Linked DNA regions of Homo sapiens. The protein of the gene in region 3 purifies or fractionates together with the protein of the main gene of each other region. This does not show direct contact. Each region holds a gene or a part of one and is shown on either strand. Other genes may lie near its edges.

What was found.
Region 1: the proteins of SLC22A1 (region 3) and ACSL4 purify together in Homo sapiens (affinity purification with mass spectrometry; one large-scale study listed by BioGRID and IntAct). This does not show direct contact.
Region 2: the proteins of SLC22A1 (region 3) and PROS1 purify together in Homo sapiens (affinity purification with mass spectrometry; one large-scale study listed by BioGRID and IntAct). This does not show direct contact.
Region 4: the proteins of SLC22A1 (region 3) and MFGE8 purify together in Homo sapiens (affinity purification with mass spectrometry; one large-scale study listed by BioGRID and IntAct). This does not show direct contact.
Region 5: the proteins of SLC22A1 (region 3) and TUBA8 purify together in Homo sapiens (affinity purification with mass spectrometry; one large-scale study listed by BioGRID and IntAct). This does not show direct contact.
Region 6: the proteins of SLC22A1 (region 3) and GPAT3 purify together in Homo sapiens (affinity purification with mass spectrometry; one large-scale study listed by BioGRID and IntAct). This does not show direct contact.
Region 7: the proteins of SLC22A1 (region 3) and FNDC10 purify together in Homo sapiens (affinity purification with mass spectrometry; one large-scale study listed by BioGRID and IntAct). This does not show direct contact.

Annotation. Positions count from the first base shown.
Region 1 is NC_000023.11:109,726,758-109,730,257, reverse strand, and holds part of ACSL4 (long-chain-fatty-acid--CoA ligase 4), read left to right. Parts: intron 1-3,500. UniProt on the Homo sapiens protein: Catalyzes the conversion of long-chain fatty acids to their active form acyl-CoA for both synthesis of cellular lipids, and degradation via beta-oxidation. Preferentially activates arachidonate and eicosapentaenoate as substrates.
Region 2 is NC_000003.12:93,893,897-93,897,396, forward strand, and holds part of PROS1 (vitamin K-dependent protein S isoform 2 preproprotein), read right to left. Parts: intron 2,796-3,500; coding exon 2,680-2,795; intron 1-2,679. UniProt on the Homo sapiens protein: Anticoagulant plasma protein; it is a cofactor to activated protein C in the degradation of coagulation factors Va and VIIIa. It helps to prevent coagulation and stimulating fibrinolysis.
Region 3 is NC_000006.12:160,131,815-160,135,314, forward strand, and holds part of SLC22A1 (solute carrier family 22 member 1), read left to right. Parts: intron 1-417; coding exon 418-572; intron 573-2,142; coding exon 2,143-2,311; intron 2,312-3,500. UniProt on the Homo sapiens protein: Electrogenic voltage-dependent transporter that mediates the transport of a variety of organic cations such as endogenous bioactive amines, cationic drugs and xenobiotics. Functions as a pH- and Na(+)-independent, bidirectional transporter.
Region 4 is NC_000015.10:88,906,880-88,910,379, reverse strand, and holds part of MFGE8 (lactadherin isoform a preproprotein), read left to right. Parts: intron 1-456; coding exon 457-588; intron 589-3,003; coding exon 3,004-3,185; intron 3,186-3,500.
Region 5 is NC_000022.11:18,124,309-18,127,808, reverse strand, and holds part of TUBA8 (tubulin alpha-8 chain), read right to left. Parts: intron 1,456-3,500; coding exon 775-1,455; intron 1-774.
Region 6 is NC_000004.12:83,602,108-83,606,375, forward strand, and holds the end of GPAT3 (glycerol-3-phosphate acyltransferase 3), read left to right. Parts: intron 1-2,560; coding exon 2,561-2,660; 3' UTR 2,661-3,768; downstream 3,769-4,268. UniProt on the Homo sapiens protein: Converts glycerol-3-phosphate to 1-acyl-sn-glycerol-3-phosphate (lysophosphatidic acid or LPA) by incorporating an acyl moiety at the sn-1 position of the glycerol backbone.
Region 7 is NC_000001.11:1,597,512-1,601,606, reverse strand, and holds FNDC10 (fibronectin type III domain-containing protein 10 precursor), read left to right. Parts: upstream 1-1,471; 5' UTR 1,472-1,591; coding exon 1,592-2,272; 3' UTR 2,273-3,595; downstream 3,596-4,095.

The DNA.
Region 1 (3,500 bases), on a different chromosome or scaffold from region 3:
GATAGTTGTAGATTCACATATAGTTGTAAGAAATAATACGCTTTATCTAATTTCCCCCAATAATAGCCTCATGCATAAGTATAGTGTAACATCACAACTACAAAATTGAAATCGATGCAATCCATCAACCTTACTCAGATTTCGTCACCTTTAATGCAGTCATTTGCATGTATGTATTTAGTTCTACATAATGTTATCACGTGTAGATTTATATAAGCACTACCACAGTCAAGATACAGAACAATTGCATCACCACAAGGATCCTTTTTGTTGTCTTTTTATAGATGTAGCCATCTCCCTTCATCCCTGACTCCTGGCAACCACTGATCTGTTTTTCATGTCTATAATTTTGTCATTTCAAAAATGCTTATATAAATGAATCACACAGTATATAACCTTTGGAGACTGACTTTACTTCACTCAGCATAATTCCTTGGAGATTAGTGCAAGGAATATACCTTTTATCAATGGCTTGTTCCTTTCCATTGCTGAGTAGTATTCCATAATATGGATTTACTGCAGTTTGTTTAACCAGTCACCTCTTGAAGGGCATCTGATGTTTCCAGGGTTTTTGTTTGTTTTACTTATTTATTTATTTATTTATTGCCTATTTTGAATAAAGCTCATATGAACAGTTGTCCACAGGATTTTGTGTGAACATAAATTTCTGAAATGCCTGAGAGTGTACTTCTTGGGTGGTATAGCACTTGCATGTTTAGTTTTCTAAGGAACTGCCAAACCATTTTCCAGAGTGGCTGTACCATTTTACATTCCCACCAGGAATGTGTGAATGCTCCTCATCCTTGACAGCATTTGGTGCTGTTACTATTTTTTATTTTAGCCATTCTCATAGGTGTGTAGTAATATATCCTCCTAGTTTTAATTTGCATTTTTCTGATCGCCAATGATGTTGATCATTTTTCCATGTGTTTATTTGCCATTCTCTGTATCTTCAGTGAAATATCAGTTCATGTCTTTTGTCCATTTTCTATTTGGATTTTTTTTTTAACCTGGTGAGTTTTAAGAGTTTTTTATTATTTTTTTGAGACGGAGTCTCGCTCTGTTGCCCAGGCTGGAGTGCAGTGGTGCAATCTCACTGCAAGCTCTGCCTCCCAGATTCACGCCATTCTCCTGCCTCAGCCTCCCAAGTATCTGGGACTACAGGCACCCGCCACCACACCTGGCTAATTTTTTTTTTTTTTTGTATTTTTAGTAGAGACAGGGTTTCACCGTGTTAGCCAGGGTGGTCTCGATCTCCTGACCTCATGATCCACCCGCCTCGGCCTCCCAAAGTGCTGGGATTACAGGCGTGAGCCACCGCCCCTGGCCTTTTTATTCTTAATACTAATCATTTGTCAGGTAGTGGTATGAAAATATGTTCTCCCAGTCTGTAGCTTGTCTTTCCAACCTCTTCACAGGGAATTTCACAGAGCAAAAGGCTTTAATTTGGATGAGGTCCAGTTTATTAATTTTTCCTCTATGGACTGTGCTTTTGGTGTCAAGAAATCTTACAAACTTTTGTTATTTAATTTGATTCCTTTCTGTTCTGTATAACATCCATTATTTCTGTAAGCTATTTGAGCATTTTCTCTTTCAACAATTTTAGAGCTCAAATATATTCTGTGAACAAGTGGCCTTAATGGCTTAGAATGTTAATACATATTCACACATGCTCTCACTATATTAAAATGGCTGCCTTAAAAATATAATGTCTACCTCACCAGGCTGTCAAATGCAACATTAAAATTTGTATTTTAAAATTAAATAGACGCATGATATGCTAAAGAGGTTTTTGGTTTCACTTTCTAAATTAAAAATATTTTGGCAAAACTGTATCATTTTCCATCAAGGATTTTGGTAAGTAATCCAAAAAACAAATTTGTGTTCTTATTTAAATGTACTTTGAAAGTCTACTTCTGCATTTTGAGTAGTGAAGTTATGATTCATGACCATGTATTTAGCAGACTTTTCTACTCACTGTTGATTATGAGAATAATGAATAAAAGATCATTGTATTTGACTGTCTAGACTGCATTTTTCCTTTTATAGCAGCTACATGACACTCATTGTAACTGTCTTTTGAAATAAATATTAGGTTCAAGGTGATGTTTACAGTTTTATATTTTGAAAAATGTATGTGCTCATATGAGAAGGAATTATAGGAAAAGGTTAGTGATTAATTTTGAGAATATTCATTTCTGTAAGGCAGTACTGAAATTATTTGTCCCTTCAGTGTTACTATATTTACTCAAATATGTGTGCAGTGAGGGAAGTAGATTGTTATTTGAAAAAGATAAAACATTGGTATAAGGCAGGGGCTGGCAAAATACTGCCTGTGGCCAAATCCTGCCCACCACCGGTTTTTGTAAATAAACTTCTCTTGGAATATAGCCACATCCATTAATTTATGTGTTTTCTGGCCGCATTCACAATACAACATCAGAGCTGAAACAGAGCCCTTATGTCCCGTGAAGCCAATTTTCTCTCTGGACCTTTACAGAAAAAGTGCTGACCCCAGAGATAAGGTAACCTTATAAATTGTTGATTACACACACACACACACACACACACACACACACACACACACACACACACACACAATTTAACAAACTACCCTGACTTTTTATACCTTCTGGTTACATTTCCAGGTGATATTGTGATTCAGGAGAGTGCATTCATTTTCTTTACTAAGTCTCCAAAGCACTGTGGTCTAGGAGCAGCAATAAGGAATGCATAGAGAGTTGAGACGGTTGATTTTGTTGTTAAGTGTGGGTTATTTAAATGTGAATGTGAATTTACATGTGTGGCAATCAGTAAGCTGCAGATAGACTTCTATGCAGTCTATGATGTCTTTTGGAGACCCTGTTGTGAGCTGTAGCGGTAATAAGAGAGCCAGGCATGGTAGTGTTTTTGCTCCTGAAACTGCTATGTGATCTTTAAGTACATAGTAGTAAGAGCCTATCAAACTGAGCTTAGACTGTTGGTTTATTATTTTGTTTGTACAACTTCCTTTTTTATAACGAAGCAGTTGACACTTTAGTTCTTTTAAGTGTTCTAAGTGTAATGTTGAAAATGGAAATTGAGTAAAGACAGGTGGCTGTGTATTTAGAAAGTAATAAGTCTCCATCTCTCATCATACACAAAAATAACTTAAGAATATATTTTAAAAATCTAAGTATATATTTTAAAAAATCTTCTGGAAAGTGTAAGACATCATAACCCAGTTAAAAAGACAAGTGATGGCCGGGCACTGCAGCTCACGCCTATAATCCCAGCACTTTGGGAGGCCAAGGTGGGAAGATTGCTTGAGCCCAGGAGTTTGAGACCAGCCTGGACAACATAGTGAGACCCTGTCTCTAAAAAAAAAACAAAAAAAACAAAACAACAACAACAACAACAAAAAACAACAAAAAAAGCCAGGCATGGTGGCATGTGCCTGTAGTCTTTGCTACTCCAGAGGCTGAAGTGGGAGGATCCCTTGAGCCTGGGAGGTCGAGGCT
Region 2 (3,500 bases), on a different chromosome or scaffold from region 3:
TATATGTAGCTATTACAGGGGAGAAAAGTCTTAGGATGCAGGACTTAAAATAACATGTGTTGATTCAGTATCCTTAAAACACTTCAATGAGAATCAGCATTGAAGTTTCCAAGGGACTAGCAAATCCACATGATTGACGAAAGACAAACAGGGAAAAGGAACAATAGGTGTATAACTATTAGTCACCTAACTTAAAATAAAGGCAATTTAAGTTAAAGAGTCTGGACTTCAGATAATTGCTATATTAGGCAGGACAGAATCCCACACTCTTACCGCAATATAGTAAAATAGTAATAGTAATAGAGGCACCATTTGCAATGGGGCACGTATCTCCCTCAAATGGAACAAAGAAAAGGTGACAAAATGAATGTTTTCATCTTTAGAATTCCAAAGAAATATTTAAAAAGAGGTAAAATGTGGAGTAAAGTATGTTGGATGGATAACAATGTAGTAGGAATTTACTGAACTCAGATTATGAAAAAAAGAACAATTTTGCTTGGAATAAGGACTTCTATGCTCTTTCATAATTATCTGAGCATTTTGCTGATGTGAAGCAATATTATCTTGCCAAAATCCAAATCTGTGTATGCTCAGGATCTTCCAGCAGTTGATTCTATTATGGAGATAATTTCCTTTTCTTTGTAAAATCAGGCTGAAATCATAGTTTCAAAGGGTCATGTTCTGCATATTTTGTTTCTGGAATATATCAGCAGCATATTGATTCATTACAATGGGGAACAATTCATTCTTTTTCACAAGCATGGTAAACAGGAAAATAGAATGAATTTGTTGACATTTACGGAGGGAAAGTATTTGATCATGAGCAACAGACGTCAAGAAATTTGCAAAAATAAATAAAAGCACTAGCTATTCTTTGTGTTGATCACACAAGGGGCAGTTTATAAAAATTCATCAAGCTATACATTTAATCTAATGTGTACATATCGGTACATACTTTATATTTCAATGAAAAGTTTAAAATAAATAAATAATAAATTCTGGAAAAAATAATTTGTCCAATTCTGATCCCATGTTAGAGATCAAACTACTATGAATCGTCAGTGAGAAATGAACAAACTCCTGGAGATTGGCTCCAGGACCTCTGGATGGTATCAATATCCACAGATGCTCAAGTCCCTTATATAGAATGGCATAGTATTTGCATATAACCTATGCACATCCTCTCACGTACTTTAAGTCGTCTCTACATTATGTATAATACTCAATACAATGCAAATGTATGTAAATAGTTGTCATACTGTATTGTGTCTCATTTGTATTATTTTGTATTGTATTGTCATTGTGTTTTTTTCTGAATATTATCTACCCGAGGTTGGTTAAATCCACAGATGAGGAACTCAAGGATTTGGAGGATCAATTGTATTCCTAAAAGTGTTATTTACTAGAACTAATATTTTTCTCTCATTATTATTCTCATAGCAGGGAAGAGTTTTCTCCAATCTCTATCATTAGAAGATATTAGTTGCTCTGTGATGTTAAAGGAAAAAACCACATATTGGCAGAAATAAAGTGTGGAAGGAGCACTGTTACTTAAGTATTTATGTAAGTTATTGATCTTAGAATAATTTTCAATGTTTTTAATAACGTCTATGAATTTAGTTGAATTATTTAATGAATAATCATTCATGTATCTAACATCAAGTTCTAAACATACATGCTTATTTAATTAAAATATTTTAAAATTTGAACTGTATAATCTGTCTCAAGTATTTTGCCTTCTCATTATTCCAAAAAAAATCCAATTTCTTTCTTCTACTTCCAGCAATGTATGCTTCTGAGAAAATCTGATAACTGAAGTACAATTATGGCAGATCACCTGAGGTGATCACCTGAGGTCAGGAGTTTGAGACAACCCTGGGCAACGTGGTAAAACTCTGTCTCTACTAAAAATACAAAAATTAGCTGGGTGTGGCAGCTCACACCTGTAGTCCTAGCTACTCAGAAGGCTGAAGCAGGAGAATTGCTTGACCTGGGAGGCGAAGGTTGCAGTGAGCCGAGATTGCGCCACTGCACTCCAGCCTGGGGAACAAAGCAAGACTCTGTCTCAAAAATAAATAAATATAATAAAATAAAAATTGGATCATAAACATTGCTATAAAAATAAGTGGAATCATGACTAAAAAACATAAGCATTTACTTCATTTCTGAACTCAATCTAAGTACGATAATAATGGATAAAGTATTTAGACAGCCAACTAAAATTATGTAATATATGTCTTTAAAATGCCACTTAAGCAAGTTTAAATTTTTTCCTTAATAATTTTGAATATAATGATATTCTAAAAGCAATACTGAGTATTTTTTATTACCTGGTTTTCATAACATGTGTAAAGAATAATGGAAATTTCACAAGTACATTAAATCTACTTTCCCAGCTTCTTAGTAAATATGCATTTTCTACAAAAGGAATAATATGGAATAATGTAAAATGTTCATTGGGGAAAGTCAGCCTAGAATGACTCAAAAAGGTTTTAGGATGAAAATTACATGTGTGAAGGAGTAAATTAACTTTAGGTTTCCCCAAGTCATCTGATTGGTAATATGACTACATTATCTGATAGGTAATACAATTTCACACACTTCAAACCTTTTCGGCCACTTTTCTTCTGCCCTTATCTGCTTAACCTCTAGAAATTATCATTGGTATTGGTTCCTCACCTGCTGATTTCTGGCAAACGAAATTTTAAATATAAAACAACCCCTGCAAACTGCTCCGCCAAGTAAAGTAATTCATACTTTGTGTCAAGGTTCAAGGGAAGGCACACTGAAACAACCTGGAATAAAAGAAACCAAATAAACAACAAGAAAATCAAAATGCACAGGTTATTGCTTAATGTTTGTGTGAGGTCATGCATTTTTGTTTGGTTACTAATGTATCATCTGTAATACACTAAAATAATTAAGAATATTTTTGGTAATAATAAATACATATCTTCCATTTCCTTGTATAGTCTATCTATCAGTATAACCTCCAAGAATACATGTGTTTTAAAGCCTCGTTCAATGTGCATGGCTTTCGATCTTTGTCTTTAATACTTCCTTTGCAAATTTTCGTCCTAAACACAAACTCTTTCTTCAAGAACCAATATATATTTCTTTAATTAACAGTCAGGTATATTATCTCCCATGAATTATGTCTGAAAATTATTTTTATTTGAAGTCAGAAATAGGTGTAAGAATTAATGTACCAATAAACAGCACCTCATTCATTCACTCATTCATTTATTAAGCAAAAGTTTTCTGAGCAAGAATGTGCTATCTAGATAGTAAAGGGAATACTGGAAAACATGAAGGAAATAAATATAAATTCAGATCTCATAGTCTCCAAGGAATTTACAAGAACATTATTTAAAGTCATCACATATGGTATCAAGTATTTTTTTTCTACGAGTGAAAACAAACATTAAAATGAAAAGCTTTTAACATACAAATTATTGAACACATATGAGGATATTTTGAGGAGAATTACGTACATAGCA
Region 3 (3,500 bases):
GAGCTGAATATGGCACTGAAAAGCTTCCATGATGGTTGATAAGACTATGGGAGGAAGGAAGCCTGGTTTGGGTGCAGCCTGACCAGTGGCGATAATAATGATGCCATCTGCTAAATATGAAGATAAGGCAAGGGGACAGGCGTGAACTGGAGAGGGTCTGCGGGCACTGCCCGGCTGAGCTGTGATGCTGCTGGGAGCGCTCAGACTCCTCTTCAGACCCGGAAGGGCTGCGGAGCTTGTTGGGACAGATGAGCAGGCTGGGCGGTGCACTGGGCACTGCTGTCCTGATAGACCCTGCAGTCTCCCAGGACAGTGGTGCGGTGGCCTCCGACTGTGACCCTTGGCATCCCACCATGCATGTCTGACCCCAGATTTCAACCTCTCCCACCTGCCCTCCATGTCTCCTTCTCTCTGAAGGTTTGGCCGTAAGCTGTGTCTCCTGGGAACTGTGCTGGTCAACGCGGTGTCGGGCGTGCTCATGGCCTTCTCGCCCAACTACATGTCCATGCTGCTCTTCCGCCTGCTGCAGGGCCTGGTCAGCAAGGGCAACTGGATGGCTGGCTACACCCTAAGTAATTATCATGGGGATGAGGCCAGGTCTCAGGGTAGAATGGGATGGGCCTAACGTGGGTAGGGGGTTGTTTGTGGGGTCAAGGAGCTTGCGGGGCACCAGTTCCTTGTATTTATGTGACTAGGGCAGGACATGGGCTAGAATGGCCTCCTCTCTTTTTGTGTCTGAGACACTTAAATTATCACTTAGATTACTGACCTATTAATCAACTAATCTATTTGGGGAACAAAAAGACCCCATGCTGATGTGCTCACAGCAGTCAGGATGGGGTGCAGAAGAGGAGATAAGTGAGAGAATATTCTAGCATTTTACATAAGAAAGAACCAGCAACTCCTTAAAATAAATACAGCAAACTTGACGGGCTTGAATGGCACTCAAGAATTAGGAAAGAAAACAGGAGCAAATAAAATAAGGATTGTGAAAATCAGGATTTTGAAAAAGTTGAAGTATAAACCAACATGAGGAGTTTTACATATCAGCCTTTTTTTCCCTTTCAAATATTCTAAGGTTAAGAATACAAAACAAAAAACCCTTTCCGGGAGGAATGCAGCCTAAGAGTCATCTGTACTTCCCCAGGCCAGGGCACGGCAGCCAGCAGTGAGGATGAGCCACACTTTTACTCATTTGTGGGGGAGAAAAAAGAAATAGCCTGTCTTTTCATCTTTGAAAACAAGGTGCTATCACTTGGCATTCTGAGAACTCATTCACTAGGGCCAAGAGGATCCACGTTCCCGCCTTGAGAAGCCATGAGCAGCCTGGTGAAGCTGAGCTGGCTCAGCCCCATGCGTGTGGAGCCTGTGACAGCCTCTGCTGCTAGGCACCGTCCCACACATGGTTTGGGGGGTCTGACCCGGGGCCACATCCACGCTCCAACACCACCCGCAGCCCCTCCACCCACGACTCCCCTGACTTCCTTTTCCCCTTTTCATTTTTGTTCCCGTTACACGTATCACGCTCTAACATAGGATTGCATTCTCTTATCTGTGATGTGGAGCGTCTGCCAAATGAGGTCTCCCAGGGCAGGACTCTACCTCCTATGCTTAACGATGTGCCTCAGACACCCCGCACAGTACCAGGTCCCCAGGAGGCACTCAAAGATATTTGCTAAATGAATGAACACCCCTGGGGTCCTGACAAATATTCCAGCTGAGTCTGGAGCTTCTCGAGGAAGGCGTTGGGGAGGAGAGGCCAGTGGACTGAGTCCTGAAGCAGGCAGAGGGGAGTGCAGATGGTAAAGGAGCAGACGCGGAAAGCGACGGTCAGGGAAAAGCCAGAGAGCCAAGCAGCCTGGTGGATCTCCGGGGCCTTGGTTTGATGGGTCCGGGGCCCCGGTTTGATGGGTCCGGGGCCCCAGAGAGAAGGGGAGGCGTGAGCGCGGCTGTGGTTTGCGGGAAGGAGAAATGGGAGACACACAAGAGAGAAGCCTGGGAGCAGGTGAGGCTGGGCAAGGCCGGGTGGGAGCTTCCCGCGGGGAGACAAGCTGGACTGGGGCCCCGAGCTTCTGAACGCACGGCGTCGGGCTCCTGGGCTCCTGCAAGGAACCCGCATAACGTCCACACCTCCTGTTTCAGTCACAGAATTTGTTGGCTCGGGCTCCAGAAGAACGGTGGCGATCATGTACCAGATGGCCTTCACGGTGGGGCTGGTGGCGCTTACCGGGCTGGCCTACGCCCTGCCTCACTGGCGCTGGCTGCAGCTGGCAGTCTCCCTGCCCACCTTCCTCTTCCTGCTCTACTACTGGTGAGGCCCTTCCTCCTGCCTACGGGGAAGGGGCGCCGGCCACCCCTCTGGCTGCGCTTTCTGTCCTCTCGAGGGACCAGTCTCTTGGAGTGGGGGGCGCCTACAGGCCGTCTTCCAAAGGCCATGGTGTCCACATGCATAACGCATGGGGCTGCGCGGAGCCCGGCGCTTCCCACACTCATGACGCATAGGGATGAGCTGGTCCCGGGGTTTCCCACACGCATGACGCATAGGGATGAGCTGGTCCCGGGGTTTCCGACACGCATGACGCATAGGGATGAGCTGGTCCCGGGGTTTCCCACACGCATGACGCATAGGGATGAGCTGGTCCCGGGGTTTCCCACACGCATGATGCATAGGGATGAGGGGAGCCTGGGGCTTCCCACATGCATGATGCATAGGGATGAGCAGAGCCCGGGGTTTCCCACATGCATGATGCATAGGGATGAGCAGAGCCCGGGGTTTCCCACACGCATGATGCATAGGGCTGCACAGAGCCCGGGGTTTCCCACAGGCATGATGCATAGGGCTGCACAGAGCCTGGGGTTTCCCACACGCATATCGCATGGGGCTGCGTGGAGCCAGCGCTTCCCACCGCTTGTACTGTTCAGGTTGTTCTGTTATTACCAGGCGGCCCAGGTTACATGTGGAGCTTTCCTCAGACAAAGCCTCTTTAGATAGGTTCCCCCAGATAAAGGTGGGCCATGCCAAGAGTCGGACAGAAATCCAGGAAAACTCAGGGCCTCAGCATGTGCACTTTCCAGAAACACAAGGCTGAACCTCACTCCCGGGTGAAGGAGGCAGCTTTTTGAGGGTTGCTCAGTGGCCTTGGGAAATCTGTATCAGCGTCCAGTGGTAGGAAAGGCTCCACAGGTGGCAATCCCACTGCAATGGCTACCACTCCCGAGAGTCCCCTAGAGTCCGTCCCAGGGGTGCTGGCATGAAGTCAGATGCTCTGTTATCTTCTTGATCCTCTCCCTCTTCCCCCTCTTCTCTTCCTCTCTGCTGTCATCTCTGCTCTTCTCCCACTTCTTCATTTTTATAGTACTATTGGTATTATTATTAAGACACTGAAATACCTCTCATCTAGCCATAGAGCAGGCATTTGATCTTGATTGAATGAATGAGTGACAGAATGAAGGAACAACAGGCCTGCTCAATGCAACCTTCTCTGGGGACTGTGTACCCT
Region 4 (3,500 bases), on a different chromosome or scaffold from region 3:
GAATTGGTGGGCGGAACCTGCTCAATGGGCCAGAACAATGCTTCCTTCCACTGCCCCTGCCTGAAAGTCCTCATGGGCCTCCTTTGCAATCAAACTGCTGCCAAGAGACCTGCCCTGGACCTTGCCTGCCTCTCCAGACCCCAGCTGCCAGCTCTTCCACCAGTGGGCAGTGGTCCCCAGCACCACTGCCATTGTCAGCCAGCACTTTTCTGGACACTCCCAGGCCACTTGGAAAGCTGGGCGCTTCCCTTATGTGGGCCGATTCGCCTACACATGGACTTCCTTGGCTCTAGGCGGACTCAGGCTCCATCCAGCACACGGGGGAAGAGGGAGAGGAAGAGATAATGGGCGAGTTTGAGTGGAGGGTCCTTTTGGGCTGGACCCATCTGCTACTTCTCACCTGTGTCCCCAGCTCCTTCCTGATCATCTGCTCATCTTACCTGTCTCTGTCCCCAGATATCTGTTCCAAAAACCCCTGCCACAACGGTGGTTTATGCGAGGAGATTTCCCAAGAAGTGCGAGGAGATGTCTTCCCCTCGTACACCTGCACGTGCCTTAAGGGCTACGCGGGCAACCACTGTGAGACGAGTGAGTATGTGGGGGTGCTTGTTGCCTGTTTCTAGCAGTAGACCCTGAGCCACAGCCCTGGTGGCATAGGCCATATGCTGGCCTTATTCTCTGCCTGTGATCCCCACCCCAGTGGAGGTGTCAAGGCCTCCTCTGGGGAGACTCAGAGAGAGAGACAGAGCCTCAGTTAGACCGAGGGGGGAAAAGGGTCCTGTTGTTTCTTCCTTCTTTCTGCCTGGCCCTCTTTCCTGAGACTGCCGGCCAGGCCTGATGCTGATGCAGAGGAGTGAGGGGTTGTGGTCACCCTGGAGGTCACGGGAGTGCTGTTTCTTGAGTCACCATGAGCCAGACACACAGCATTAGGGTTAAGTTGCAAGGATTTTTCTACCTAAGAGGGGAAAACAAACACATTCTTGGTCTTTTGAGGCCCAGGAACTCAGTAAATCAGCCTTGGTTTCAGAGTCTGACAGTTCCTGGCCCAAGTTTGACCTGCAGCCTCATCGCAGAGCTCGGGGAGAAGGGAGAGGCCTGGGCCAGCTGAACCATCCCCACGCGGTCAGGTGGTCAGAGGCCTTGCATGCCCAGAGGGGCTGTCCGCGTGTGACCTGCCTGGTTATCCACTCGGCCACAGAATGGCCCTAGGTGGGGTGGCAACAGCAGTTCCCCTGCTGTCCTCCCTCCAGGCCCAGCTGGAGTCCCTCCCACTTAGTGCTCCCACCCCACTAGGACTCCTCATGGGGCAGGCGGGTTGCCCACATGTGGGCCCAGGGATGGGTGGAGCGGGGGGTCCTAGGTTTCTGAATCCAGCAGGTCAATCGCTGAGCATCTTGGGTAGGGGACAGGGGACATCTTGCCCTCCTCAGGGAGATGTGGGGATGGGTTCTGAGGTTTGCTGGCCTCCAGAAGGAGGGGGCGGGGGGCTTGAGCCAGCTGGGTGGCAGCAGGGGCCCTGGGAGAGAGCAGGTCAAGTGAGTAGGATGCCTTTTACCTCCCAAGTGGCCCTGGGGCCTGTGCCTTGGACCCTGCCCTGAGGCCAGATGTGTTTGAGATCCTGGTGGAAGGGTGTGTGTATGGTTTGGCGGACGGGTTGCTAAGGCAATCAGAGCCCTGGGTAGGGCCAGGTGGAGCCACTAACAAGTATCCTGGGAGCTGAGGTAACAGTGAGTGTGCCTGAGTGGGAATTACCCACCTTGACTTCTAGCTTCTGGGCCTGGGATCTTCCCCAGGCTGGATATGGCTGCACCCAGGAAGAAGGCAGGGGTGACCACACAGCGGAGGAAGCCCTCAGAGGGACCTTCGCAGCTCTTCCTTGCCTTTTACGTGGTATGTTTCCTTGGAGCCAACAAGGACCCTGCGGGCCCAAAGAATGCACACTGGACTCCTTCAGGGTGTGAGCGTGGTGGGGTATGGGGATAGTCTTGGAGGCAGACTGGGGTCAAATCTCAGCTCAGCCACTGGCCGAGCTCTGGTCTTGAGGCTCTGGCCTCACTTTGCGCGTTCCCCTCCCTGCCAGAGTGCGCTAACACTGAGCTCGTCCGCGCCTGTGATGTTGGAGGAAGACTAGATCTGTCTGTGGGTTCTCTGCTTGGCAGCTGGAAGGCCCAGGCACACGCTGGGGGGATCCCCAGGTGATGAGAGAAGCTTGGCCTGTAGGTGGGCCTGGTAGCTGTCCTGGGTTCCTGGGACCACACTGCTGGAGTGATGGTGAGGGGGGTGGGGCCTTGGCCACGGGCATGTTCACAGATGGCTGGGTGAGGGCCCACAGGTGGAAGGCGTAAAGAGGGAAAGCAGAATGGCATTTGTGCCCCACCCAGAGAACTCCTGCCAGTGGGATTCTAGAAAACTCCAGGCAGATTAGCTTCTTTCTTTGTGTACAGTGCTGGTACTGTTCACTGCTATCCGAGGTAGCCCTTCTCCCAAAGCCACCCTCCTGAGGAAGCCAGGGGCTGGGCTGAGGATGGCGTCCCTTCCTGGTGGGGGGAGGGGACACTGAGGAAGAGGGGGTCACACCGGTATTCTGTGCCACCAGTCTAACCCCTGCACCAGACTGATTGCTGCCAGATGCCCTATATGAACGAGGCCACCTCCCACAGCCTGGCGGGGGGGACTCTACTTTCCATGAGTGCCAATCATGGCTGTCCCCACAGTGCTACCCTGGCTGGGATCCTCTGGCAGCCCTGGGTCCCAGCCTCCCGTGACTCTGCCCACCCCCCTCATCCTCACCACCCCTGGCCACATACCTTTTCTTGGCACCTCGTCCTGGGCACTGCCTTCATTGTCCCTTTGTGGTCTTTGTTCTGAGAGAGGCTCTGAGGTTCTCCCTGGCCCTGGGGCTTAGGCAGAGGTCATACAGTCTTATTTTCTTGTCCGCTGGGTCCCAGCTGGGCCCGGGAACCTGCTGGGGTAGCCACCTGACTGCCACCTCCCTTCCCTCAGAATGTGTCGAGCCACTGGGCCTGGAGAATGGGAACATTGCCAACTCACAGATCGCCGCCTCGTCTGTGCGTGTGACCTTCTTGGGTTTGCAGCATTGGGTCCCGGAGCTGGCCCGCCTGAACCGCGCAGGCATGGTCAATGCCTGGACACCCAGCAGCAATGACGATAACCCCTGGATCCAGGTATGCCTGGGGATGGCCCTGGGGCGGGGCAATGGAGAGAAGGCTCGATGAATGTTTCTGCATTTGGGGGTTACCCCAGGAGGGTTCATCACTGGGGTTCAGGTGGCAAGGTAACAGGTTCCCATGGATGAAGTATCTGTAAGTGGATGGCATCCCTGGAGGAACCTGGTATGGGGTCAAGGTGAGGGGGGAGGAGGCCCCAGGCTGTGGAGGAGCTGTTGGTGCTGGATGAGGCCTCTGGAGGCCTGGGCAGAAGAAGAAAGCCCTTTGTGCGGGCAGTGTGCTCAGCTACCCCTCCTCTGTTTTGCTTGAGTT
Region 5 (3,500 bases), on a different chromosome or scaffold from region 3:
GGAGAATGGCGTGAACCCAGGAGGTGGAGCTTGCAGTGAGCCTAGATCGCGCCACTGCACTCCAGCCTTGGTGACAGAGCGACACTCCGTTTCACAAAAAAAAAAAAAAAAAAAAAGTCCGGGCACAGTGGCTCACGCCTGTAATCCCAGCACTTTGGGAGGCCAAGGCGGGCGGATCACGAGGTCAGGAGATCGAGACCATCCTGGCTAACACGGTGAAACCCCATCTCTACTAAACATACAAAAAATTAGCTGGGCGTGGCGGCGGGCGCCTGTAGTCCCAGCTACTTGGGAGGCTGAGGCAGGAGAATGGCGTGAACCTGAGAGGTGGAGCTTGCAGTGAGCCCAGATGGTGCCACTGCACTCCAGCCTGGGTGACAGAGTGAGACTCCGTCTCAAAAAAAAAAAAAAAAACAAAACTAACGTTAGGCAAATTGAACCAAATCATGAACACCAAAAGCACTGTACTTCAGGTGAGTAGATTTGGGCCAATACCAAATCATTACTTGTTGCTCAGTAAACAAAACCAAAGGTGATTAACCAATTAATCAATTTAAAATAGCACCAAACTTTTCTAAAATGGCCTAAACAGACAAAACTTTGACAGCACTTGTGTCTCAACCAAAGCTGAATTCCATTCATGTTACATTTGGTTGAAGTCCCCCTCCCCTTATCATCACATAAAGCCTGAAGCGCCCATGGAATTGCATATCCTTGGTCACCTCCCTCTGCTTCTCTAGTCCTCTCTCCCCTTCCTAAGTCATCAGCTCTCACCTTGAAGCCTGTGGGACACCAGTCTACAAACTGGATGGTCCTCTTGGTCTTGATGGCAGCAATAGCGACATTCACATCCTTGGGCACCACGTCGCCCCGGTAGAGCATGCAGCAGGCCATGTACTTGCCATGTCTCGGGTCGCACTTCACCATCTGGCTGTTGGGCTCAAAGCAGGAGCTGGTTATCTCGGCCACAGAGAGCTGTTCGTGATAGGCTTTCTCGGCAGAGATGATGGGCGCGTAGGTGACCAGCGGGAAGTGGATGCGGGGGTAGGGCACCAGGTTGGTCTGGAACTCAGTGAGGTCCACATTGAGGGCCCCGTCAAAGCGGAGAGAAGCAGTGATTGAGGACACAATCTGACTGATGAGGCGGTTGAGGTTGGTATAGGTAGGGCGCTCAATGTCAAGGTTCCTGCGGCAGATGTCATAGATGGCTTCGTTGTCCACCATGAAAGCACAATCTGAATGTTCCAGTGTGGTGTGGGTGGTCAGGATGGAGTTGTAGGGCTCCACCACTGCAGTAGAGACCTGGGGGGCTGGGTAGATGGCAAACTCCAGCTTGGATTTCTTGCCATAATCCAGGGAGAGGCGTTCCATCAGCAGAGAAGTGAAGCCGGAGCCAGTGCCCCCACCAAAACTGTGGAAAATCAGGAAGCCCTGCAGGCCAGAGCAAGCATCTGTCTAGGGAGAGCAGGACATGAGAAGAAATCATGAAGACAAGTTTCCGAGAACACCCCACAGTAAAAAAGCCAGACCGCCCACTCTGTCTGCCTCATATTTTTTTGTGGATGAAATCAAAACAGCTTTGAAGAAGTAAGGAAACAAAAGGAGTTGTATTGATCTTTGGAGGAGTGGCTAAAATATGGGATGGGGCCAGGCACAGTGACTCAATGCCTGTAATCCCAGCAGTTTGGGAAGCTGAGGCAGGAGGATCCATTGAGGCCAGGAGTTCACAACCAGCATGGGCAACATAGTGAGACCTCGCATCTACAAAAAATTTTAAAAGTTAACTGGGCGTGGTGATGCACACCTGTAGTCCCAGTTACTTGGGATGCTGAGGTGGGAGGATCACTTGAGCCCAGGAGCTCATGGCTGCAGAAATCTATGATCACACCACTGCACTCTGGCTTGGATGACAGAGCAAGTCTCTGTCTCTATTTTTTTTAATAGGATGACAAGCTGCAGGGGCACACGCCTCTAGGTACATGAAGGTTTCAGCCCAGTAACTTGGTTGAACAGGGAATGAGAGTTTCAGAACCACAGTGGATGGTGACTTTGCCCTTTGAGGGCCCCAACTCCTTGCCCACTTTCCCTGCTCTTGTCATTTGATTTTGTGGGAACTGCTGCCGACACACTTCAACCCAACCTTGGAAGGTGACTCAGGGCACCAATTTCAGAAAGGTACATGGAGCCAGAAAGCCTGAGTTCTAATATCAACTTTGCCATTTCTTGGTTGTAAGAACTTGAGCAAGTTACTGAACCTCTCCAAACTTCTGTTCCTTTTTTTTTTTTTTTTTTTTTGAGACAGAGTCTCGCTCTGTCGCCAGGCTGGAGTGCAGTGGTGCAATCTTGGTTCACTGCAAACTCCGCCTTCTGGGTTCAAGCAATTCTCCTGCCACAGCCTCCTGAGTAGCTGGGACTACAGGCGCATGCTACCATGCCCAGCTAATTTTTTGTATTTTTAGTAAAGATGGGGTTTTAACATGTTGGCCAGGATGATCTCAATCTCTTGACCCCGTGATCCACCCCCCTCAGCCTCCCAAAGTGCTGGGATTACAGGCATGCGCCACCATGCCTGGCCACTTCTGTTCCTTCTTAGTGAAAATGGGGACAATAGAAAATCCTCATAAGGTTATTGTGACAATTAAATAAAATAGCATAACATGCTGAGCAAGGGCCTGATACGTTGTAAGCACGGATGTCAGCTCTCACCAGAGAATTCATAGAATCACAGGATTTTCCCACTGGGTGTGATTTGAACTTTTGGGGACCACAGACAGCTTTGAGGCCAATGACCCTGACAAGCCCTCCTCTAAACAGAAAAAGTGAATATATGCAAAAGTTTGGCACCCTTACCTCCCAGGGAAAGAACATGTGATCAGGTCCAAGCTTTTCCATTATACAGATAAGCAAATGGAAGCTTAAATAAATAAAGTGACACAACCTACAACTCAAGAGCTTTGTAGTCCAACTGAGTTCAAACCCCAGCTCTGCCACTTTTTAGCTGTGTGACCCAGGCTAAGATATTGAACCACCCTGGCCCTCAATTTCTTCATCTGTAAAGCACAGGAAGGACACCTCCTAAGTCTAATTATTAAGGATTAAATGAAGGAATGTGCTTAACATCTGTAATGGCACTTGTAAGTGCCCAAATGTATCAACAATCTCTTCCTCTCCTCTTCCAAGTTAAATGCTTTGTTAACCTGTGTTTCCGACCAGCAGAGACCTCATCCTGCCTTATACCCGGAACCTTCCCCAGATACTAACAGAGAGTATCAATGAGTATGAGTAGGGCCTCAGCCTGGAACACAGTCTATGATGCCAACACAGAGGAAGGGGCATCACCCCTGTGCATGCTTCTTACAGAATTTAAGCAGAAATTCCCAAACCTTAGGAGCTCCATCCTATAGCCAGGGGTCAGATGCCTCTCCCTAGCCTGATCAAAGAGGCATGGGGCCAAGCCTGTCCACTCCAGCCTGACCCACCCGTCCCCTGCCCTCCTGATC
Region 6 (4,268 bases), on a different chromosome or scaffold from region 3:
CATACGTGCAACTGGGTTCCTTTTCCTTATTTAAAACTCTTTACTCACTCTTTATCTTACCTGACACTCAGCCCTCCTGCTTCTATCCTGAAGTCAGTGTCTGTAGTCTCAGACACAGGAAGGGAAGAAAGCCTTGAGAGACAAGAACAACCTAGGGGAGTCAGCCAAGTACAGACTCTCCATCAGAGTGGCTGAACTAAATCCATCAAAAATGATCCTCAGAATTGTCCAGTGTCCTTTTTTCAGGCCATATGCAATTGTATAATAAAATTACTTTTAATTACCTAGCCTCTTAAAAAAAAGAAAGTGGCCTCATTGCCTTTCTAGATTTATTTGTCATGTACCTATTGGTTATGAATTAACATATCTAGATTGTTTTTTCATAGATTGAGTGAAAATATAATTTTATGATCTTAAACTGGCTTTTATATATGGCTGCTCCCTCTCTTAAGAACTAAGACCTGCTGCCATTGCAAAGGGGAATTGGATAAAATTTTGAAGTCTCTAAGGGGTGGCAAATCACAGTTTAAGTGCTTAGAGCAGCATGAGGTTTACTGGGTGCTTGGGAAGGAGAATTGTACAAAATGATGTCAGATTGCTCAAGACTTACATTTTTGCCTGTTTTGGGCTTGGATCTTGTGAAAGGAGAAAGGCCTTTCTTATTTCTTTAGTTTCCTTAGTTCTCACTATTCAGAATTCAGGTAAGTGCTGTTAATAGAAGAAGCTCATTTGGATAAAAGAGGCTTATGTGGACAATTCTGTGGACCTAACAACAATTTATAATCTTGTTTCATGAAAACCTCCCACAACTGACCCACTGGATGATTTGTGGATCACAGTCTGTTTTTAAGTTGAGGACTTATTGCTGTGTCTTAGATTTGAGTCTAGAAGCCAGAACATTGCATTTGTCTCAAGCCGGTGTCTCTGTGGAGGTCAAGTTCTGTCCACATGGCATTGAGTTCACTGGCTAACCTACGATCATTCACCATCATCAGAAAGCATTTGGTAAACATGCATGCTTAACTGGGTTAAAATTAAACAGTCAGAGTATAAAGTAAGCAAGTTCTCAGCCCATGCTCTCCTAGCAGTTAAAATCTAAAACTTTAGATTAGGAGCCAGATAGTGACCTATGATAGTCCAAACTACTCCCAGCAACTCCAGTTTGTTGTTTCTTTATGTGTAGTCCAAAGAAGGAAAAGCATGCAGAGTTCTTATACCCAGGCAGGCACCCTGGAGAGAGTTCAAAGATTTACAGGCTCTGAATGAAGGAATGCTGCTTACATAGGCACTTCTGGTTGAATGCAACTTATGATTTTGTTATTTTATTCGGAATCTGTTTTGGAATATAAATGATTATAAATGCTGGAAATATAGTGCTTTGAATGAAAATACAACTTGTTAGACCGGGCACGGTGGCTCACGCCTGTAATCCCAGCACTTTGGGAGGCTGAGGCAGGCAGATCACCTGGGGTTGGGAGTTCGAGACCAGCCTGGCAAACATGGAAAAACCCTGTCTCTATTAAAAATACAAAATTAGCCGGGCCTGTTGGTGCATGCCTGTAATCCCAGCTACTCAGGAGGCTGAGACAGGAGAATCACTTGAACTCGGGAAGTGGAGGTTGCGGTGAGCCAAGATTGTGCCATTGCACTCCAGCCTGGACAACAAGAGCAAAACTCTGTCTCAAAAAAAAAAAAAAAAAAAAAAGAAAATATAACTTGTTAAACATAGATAGGGTTATATTTGAACAATGATTTATCTTTTTTGAATAATCATTTATCTTTAAGAAATTTACCCACACATATACAGTACCCTTACCATTTCTTCTGTGTATATTTTAAATTTTCCTGTGGTTTTCTAGTAAGACATAGGTAGACGAAAAACCAGTATTTTGTTTTCCTTAAGGAATAATATAGAGAAATAATCCTAGTTTTAATAATCCTTGTTTCAATCCAGTTTTTGTTTGTTTGTTTGTTTGTTTTTGAGACGAAGTTTTGCTCTTGTTGCCCAGGCTGGAGTGCAATGGCGTGATCTCGGCTCACTGCAACCTCCACCTCCCGGGTTCAAGCGATTCTCCTGCCTCAGCCTTCCAAGTAGCTGGGATTATAGGCATACACCACCATGCCCAGCTAATTTTGTATTTTTAGTAGAGACAGGGTTTCACTATGTTGGCCAGGCTGGTCTCGAACTCCTGATCTCAGGTGATCCACCCACCTTGGCCTCCCAAAGTGCTGGGATTACAGATGTGAGCCACTGTGCCTGGCCAATCCAAATATTTAATACACCACCCCTTAACTTCTAAAGAAACTGAGTTGGGGATATTGTTACTTATTTTAACCAAACATCAGAGAGATTGTTCCTTCCTCAAAGTAATGTGTATTTGGCAAGTGGTAGGGCAGAAACTGAAACCTGGGTCTTCCTGTTTCCAAATCCAGTGTTCTTTCCCTTATTTCATCCCAGCTGCCTAAGCGTCATGGTATCATGCAGCATGTAATTATTAAGTTAACTCTTTTAAATCACCGCTGTAAAGTATCTTTTATGTATTTGTCTTTCTGTTTGCAGGGATGGAGGACTAAAGAGAGCAAAGGTGAAGGACATCTTTAAGGAAGAGCAGCAGAAAAATTACAGCAAGATGATTGTGGGCAATGGATCTCTCAGCTAAGAGGACGGATGACAGCCTTTAGATCTAGAACTAGCCCTTAGAAATGGAATGGCTTTTTTTGTTTTGTTTTGTTTTATTGTTTTGTTTTTATTATTGTTAATCTTTTCTACAGAATGATTGTCTCTACCTCTTTATGCCAGAGGCAGAACCTACAGGTGCCCTTTTTGGCTTTTGTTGTTGTTGTAACATTAGCCCCATGGATTGTAAGGTGGTTTACTGAGTTAAAACAGATTCTGCTTTTGTAAAATGATGGCATCACTGTGGACTGAATGAAATATTTGTATAGAAAAAAGTGCTTGAAAAGTGTGTTTGGAACTCATCGATAGGGTAATTCTCCAAAAATGCCCAAACTCTTTTTCTGTAATTAGCCTTGCCACTTTCTTCAGTCACTTAAATGGTGAGATTACACATCAGTGCAAGATGACCATTATGGTTATGGTCTACTGCAAGGTTGAAAGGAAAAATGGAGGATTGTATTTAGGAAAAGGGACAACTTTGTGGCCACCTGCTCTGAAAGTCAAAAGGAAATGTAAATTAGTGTCATTAGTGTGTTGGAAGAGAAATACTATTCAGTAAGCTTCGCCAAAGAAAAGTGAGTCAAAGTTAATGTGTGTGCGCATTTATATGTAGGCAGCTCGTAGACCACATTTTAACCAGCAACTGGTAACAAAGAGCTTAGTTTTCCTTGTTTGAATGCTGTAGATCTGTACCTAGTACCCCTCCCATCTACTGATTTGTTTGTTTTTGTAACCAAACACATTTTCAGATAGAAGGAGCCTTAAAAAAAAAAAATCACATTGAGTAACTTCAGTATGAATGAATGAGAGTGTGTGGAGCTACCCCTCACCCTCCACCCCTTTGTGCTTTTTATTCCCGAATTTTCCCAGTCTCTTAAACAGAAAAATGACTGATATAATTATCTTTTGGAAACTGAGCCTTAATTTTTTTTAGAGGGGGAAATAAGTTTTCCCCAACTCACACAGCATAAGCAATGTTTGACAGCAATATAATGCCGTTGTAAACTACTGAGAGTATTGTATCTGTTCTGGTAACCATGTACAGAATGTGAAACTGTCTTATGAATATAAATAAATTCTATATTTCTAAATGTGTGTTGCATTATTCCCCCTTCCCTTCCCCCCTTTTCTGGTTTTGAGTAAGTTAAATTCTTTCCTATTACAAACAAGGGTTGTTTGTTTTTCATTTCAGTGACATAGTTAGATTTTATTGGACTGGAACAAATGGGAAACAAGAACATGAGCCACTGATTCTCCCCCTCCCCTCCCGCCGCTTAAATCTTTTTTTCAGTCTAGTCATTTGGACTCTGGCCCTGTGAACTCCACCTTGAGCAATGTCACAGACTACAGTTATTTTGCAGGTGAATTAAGGCAATTATATCTAACTATCTAGGTAGGCCTGGCATAGCACTATCAGTATATACTCTTCTTATCTATCTAGCTAGTTGGATTTCATCCCAAAAGAAAACTTGCAAATAGGTTACTCTCATGGCCATCCACCTCTCTGTTCTCACTCTCCCCACTTTCCCTTTGTTGTTTGGTGAAATTTTGCCCCACAAACTCTATTAGGAGTGGTCTTGACTGAAAATTA
Region 7 (4,095 bases), on a different chromosome or scaffold from region 3:
ACGCTGGGGCAAGAGTCAGAGCCCAGGGTTTGCCCTTCCTAAGCAGAGGTGGGAGCTGGGGGCAGGGGGCAGGGAGCGCCTCTCCCAAGGTCTCTGCCCCCAACCTCTCTGCGCCAGGTGCAGAGGCCTCAGCAGACCCTGCCAGGGGCCCAACAGGCTGGTGTAGGGGGTCAGGGCCCTCCATGCCGGGGACGGAGGTGCACCGTGACCACAGTTGGTGGGGGCCTGACCGCTGGGCCGGGGCTCTGGCAGAGCCCCTGAGATCCTGTGGGGTCCTGACCACTGCACTGGGTTTTTCAAGATGACCAGGAATTCGTGAGGCTGGGTGGTGACTCCGTGGGGGGGCGGAGACATGGCCATCCAGAGGTCGGGGACCAAGGACACCGTGAGCAGAATAGCCAGTCTCTCCTCACTCTGCCCCCAGGCAAGGAGAGCACAGGAAGGGGTTGCAGGAACTCATGGTCCAGTTGCCAGAGAGCCCCCCACAACCCCTGCAGACCCAGAGCTGGCTCAGCGGAGGTGCCAGCCCAGCCTTAGGTGCGAGGCTTGGCCTCCTTTCCAGTTAGGGCAGGCCGGCCAGGCCCGGCCACGTCTGCATACACAGTCCCTGGCTGTAGTCCTGGCCCTGGAGGGGTGTCCTGGTTGCTGGGTGATCTATGCAGGGACGGGAATGAGGGGCAGGGGTCTTGGGGTGTGTCCCGCCTTCCCCTCCCCCGTCGGTGCCACCTACTCAGTGCACCGGGTGGGCTTTTTGGATTCCCTTTGTCCAGCCCTGACCTCCCCACAGCCATCGGGAGGGCCCCCCAGAGCGCATCTGGAGGAGGAGGGGGCGCAATGAGGCAGGGAAGGTCGGCGCCCTGCAGCTGCCTCCGCTGCGTGTGGAGCGAAGGGAGTTCTCACCTTGCGAAGTCTCATCTGTCAGGCTTTCCTCCGGGTGGGCGCTGTCCGTCCTGAAAGGAACAGAAGCCGCGGGGTGAAGGAAAGTCTCCGTGCTGGTCCCCACCCCATCGGTATGGGCAGGTACCCTGACTGCGCGGGTCCCCGCCGCGGGTCCAGGGCGGCCAGCGTTGGGGTGCAAGGCCCGGGGTCCTGCGCGTGCCAGACCGCTGCGCCCCCATCGTAAAGCACGAAGTCCCCGACTGGTGTGGCCACGGGCGGTCGCGGAGCTGCACGACGCGAAACGAAGCCGGCCACAGCCCGTGAGTTTCGGCTCGGAAAAGCCGCAGGGGTCCAAGGTGCGCTCACTAGGCGGGAAGCCGGGAGAGCGGCGGCCCTGCCCGCACCCCGCGCCCCTGCCCGCACCCCAGCCCCACCGGCACTCCGGCCGCCTCGCTGCGTCCCCCTCCTCCCCCCCACCCCCGATCCCCCGCACCCGTAGGCCGCGGCCCGGCGAGGGTTAAGGGGGGCGGGGCGAGGGGCGGCCCCGCCTCCGCCGCCGCGCCGGGTCCGAGCGCGCACGGGGCGCGGGGGCGGGTCGGAGCGGGCGGCGGCGGAGGGCGCGGCGCGCCGGGGATCGCGGGGAGCGGGCAGCGGGGACGGCGGCGGCGCGGCCCGCGTGACCCAGCGCCGCGCCCCGTGGCCCCGCCGCAGGATGCGCGCCCCGCCGCTGCTGCTGCTGCTGGCCGCCTGCGCGCCGCCGCCCTGCGCCGCGGCCGCCCCGACGCCGCCGGGCTGGGAGCCGACCCCCGACGCGCCCTGGTGCCCCTACAAGGTGCTGCCCGAGGGCCCCGAGGCGGGCGGCGGGCGCCTGTGCTTCCGCAGCCCCGCGCGCGGCTTCCGCTGCCAGGCTCCGGGCTGCGTGCTGCACGCCCCGGCCGGCCGCTCCCTGCGCGCCAGCGTCCTGCGCAACCGCAGCGTCCTCCTGCAGTGGCGCCTGGCCCCGGCCGCCGCGCGCCGCGTGCGCGCCTTCGCGCTCAACTGCTCGTGGCGCGGCGCCTACACGCGCTTCCCGTGCGAGCGCGTGCTCCTCGGGGCCTCCTGCCGCGACTACCTGCTGCCCGACGTGCACGACAGCGTCCTCTACCGCCTGTGCCTGCAGCCGCTGCCGCTGCGCGCTGGGCCCGCCGCCGCCGCGCCAGAGACCCCCGAGCCGGCCGAGTGCGTGGAGTTCACCGCCGAGCCGGCCGGCATGCAGGACATCGTGGTGGCCATGACGGCGGTGGGCGGCTCCATCTGCGTCATGCTGGTGGTCATCTGCCTGCTGGTGGCCTACATCACCGAGAACCTCATGCGCCCGGCCCTCGCGCGCCCCGGCCTGCGCAGACACCCCTGAAGCGCGAGGCCGCCCGCCCATCTTTGCGCCACCTGCCTGAGGGCGCCTGAGCTCCCAGGTCCTCCGCCCGCTCTCCTCTCCTCATTCCTGCTGCCTCCTTAAGATCCCCGCGGAGGAGGACCTGCCGGCGACGGCTCCGGCACTTTGGCATCATCACACGCCCTTTCCAGCCGGGCGTCAGACTCCCAGACTCTGGCCCCGGATTGGCCCCTGGGCTTGCGCTGCTGTGCCAGCCGCATCCAGGGCTCTCCCCGCTCTCCGCAGGCCTTTATAGAGGCGGCCAGGGCATGGAGCCCCTTCCAGCAAGAGCCATGGGCACTCCGGCTCACCCCGCACCTCCATCCTGTGCCGAATTGTCCCAGACAGACCGTCGCCATTGCTCGGTCACTGTGCTTTGCAGGCCTGGGGCGCAGCTCTCCAAGCCTGTCCTGCCCCGCCCCACCCCACTGGGCTTAGGTTAGCTTCGTGCCTTAGTATCTCGGGCCCACTGCAGGAGCCAACACCCTCTGCTGTCCAGGGGGGGTCTGTGGCCCTAAGATTGGCCGGCCTCTCCATGCATCTGGCCAGCGTCCCCTTGGAGACACCTTCACCCTCAAGCGCTGCAGAAGCATGAGGTGAGGGCCTGCAGCGCTCTGTACCGTTTAGGGTGTTGGACCAGCCGGGAGCCTGGCAGGCCTGGCCCAGCGGCCAGGGTGAGTGTTCTCAGACCCCGGGCAGCTGGTGGTTCTCCAGGGCCAGGTACCCCTTTTGTGTGTGCGACCTCTGACTAGGTCCCTGTGGGAATGGGGCAGATGGCGGCCATCACCACTGGGTCCCAGGGCAGAAGCTTAGATACCGGCCTTGAGCAGCCCGACCTTCCACCGCTGCCTGGATCCCAAGCCTCAGCCGACCCAGGGGACCTTGGTGGCAACGGTGTGACTGACAGCACCACCCCTAGCCTTTGCATGCCCAGGGGTCGAGAGCCAGTATCCGGCCCAGACAATGCCACCCGCCATGGAAGAAAAGCTGACCCTGCCCACCTGCTGCAGACCCGGGCCCCGGGCCGAGGTTGCTTTCTGTGACGACCGCCTGGTGACGCTGGACACCAGGAGGGTTATGGCACTGCCCTCCCCTCCTGGAGCCCCTGGCACTGACCACCTGGACTTGACCTGACTCCTGGTCACTGGCCAAACACCCATCCTCACCCCAGCCACCCCGGGCCCTGGCTGGTGCCGTGTGACACCTGTAGCCCACCTGTGTGTCTTTGCTCCGCCCACCCCTGCGTGGCGCCGGTCAGGCGCAAACCTGGCGCCAGTGTCTAAATGTCCATCATTCTCAGACCAACAGAGCTGTCTGTGTGTTATTTGGGAGGTGGGAGGGAAGGAAAAGGTGGATTCCCCTTCTCCCCACATCCCCTGGGACCCTTGGGTATGGGCTGGTGTCTGGCCCCAAACCCTCTCCTGGCCTGGGTGGCATTGGCCCAGGCAGCGTGTGCGGCACGCTGCCTTGCAGTTCCTAGCAGGACAGGCAGGGTGCCCCCTGTTTGTCTCTGCACCTTCTTGTCCTGGGCCAGCTGTGTTGGCGGGGGAAGGGGAAGACGGTACCTGCCGTGCTTAGAAATAGCCCATTCCCACGGCGACACACTTGAGCTGTGACAGTGGCAATTAGGCTGCTCCGGAGGGGCTCACCTCCCTGCCTGGGCCTCCCTGGCAGAGCTAGAGCTGGGGTGGGGACGGTGGGCAGAGGACAGCCTGGGGCTCCTGTGTGTATCCTGTGCTGAATGCCACCCTCCCTCCCCCACAGGCTCTTCCAGGCTGTCCTTGAGGCACTTGCAGCCAGGGGTG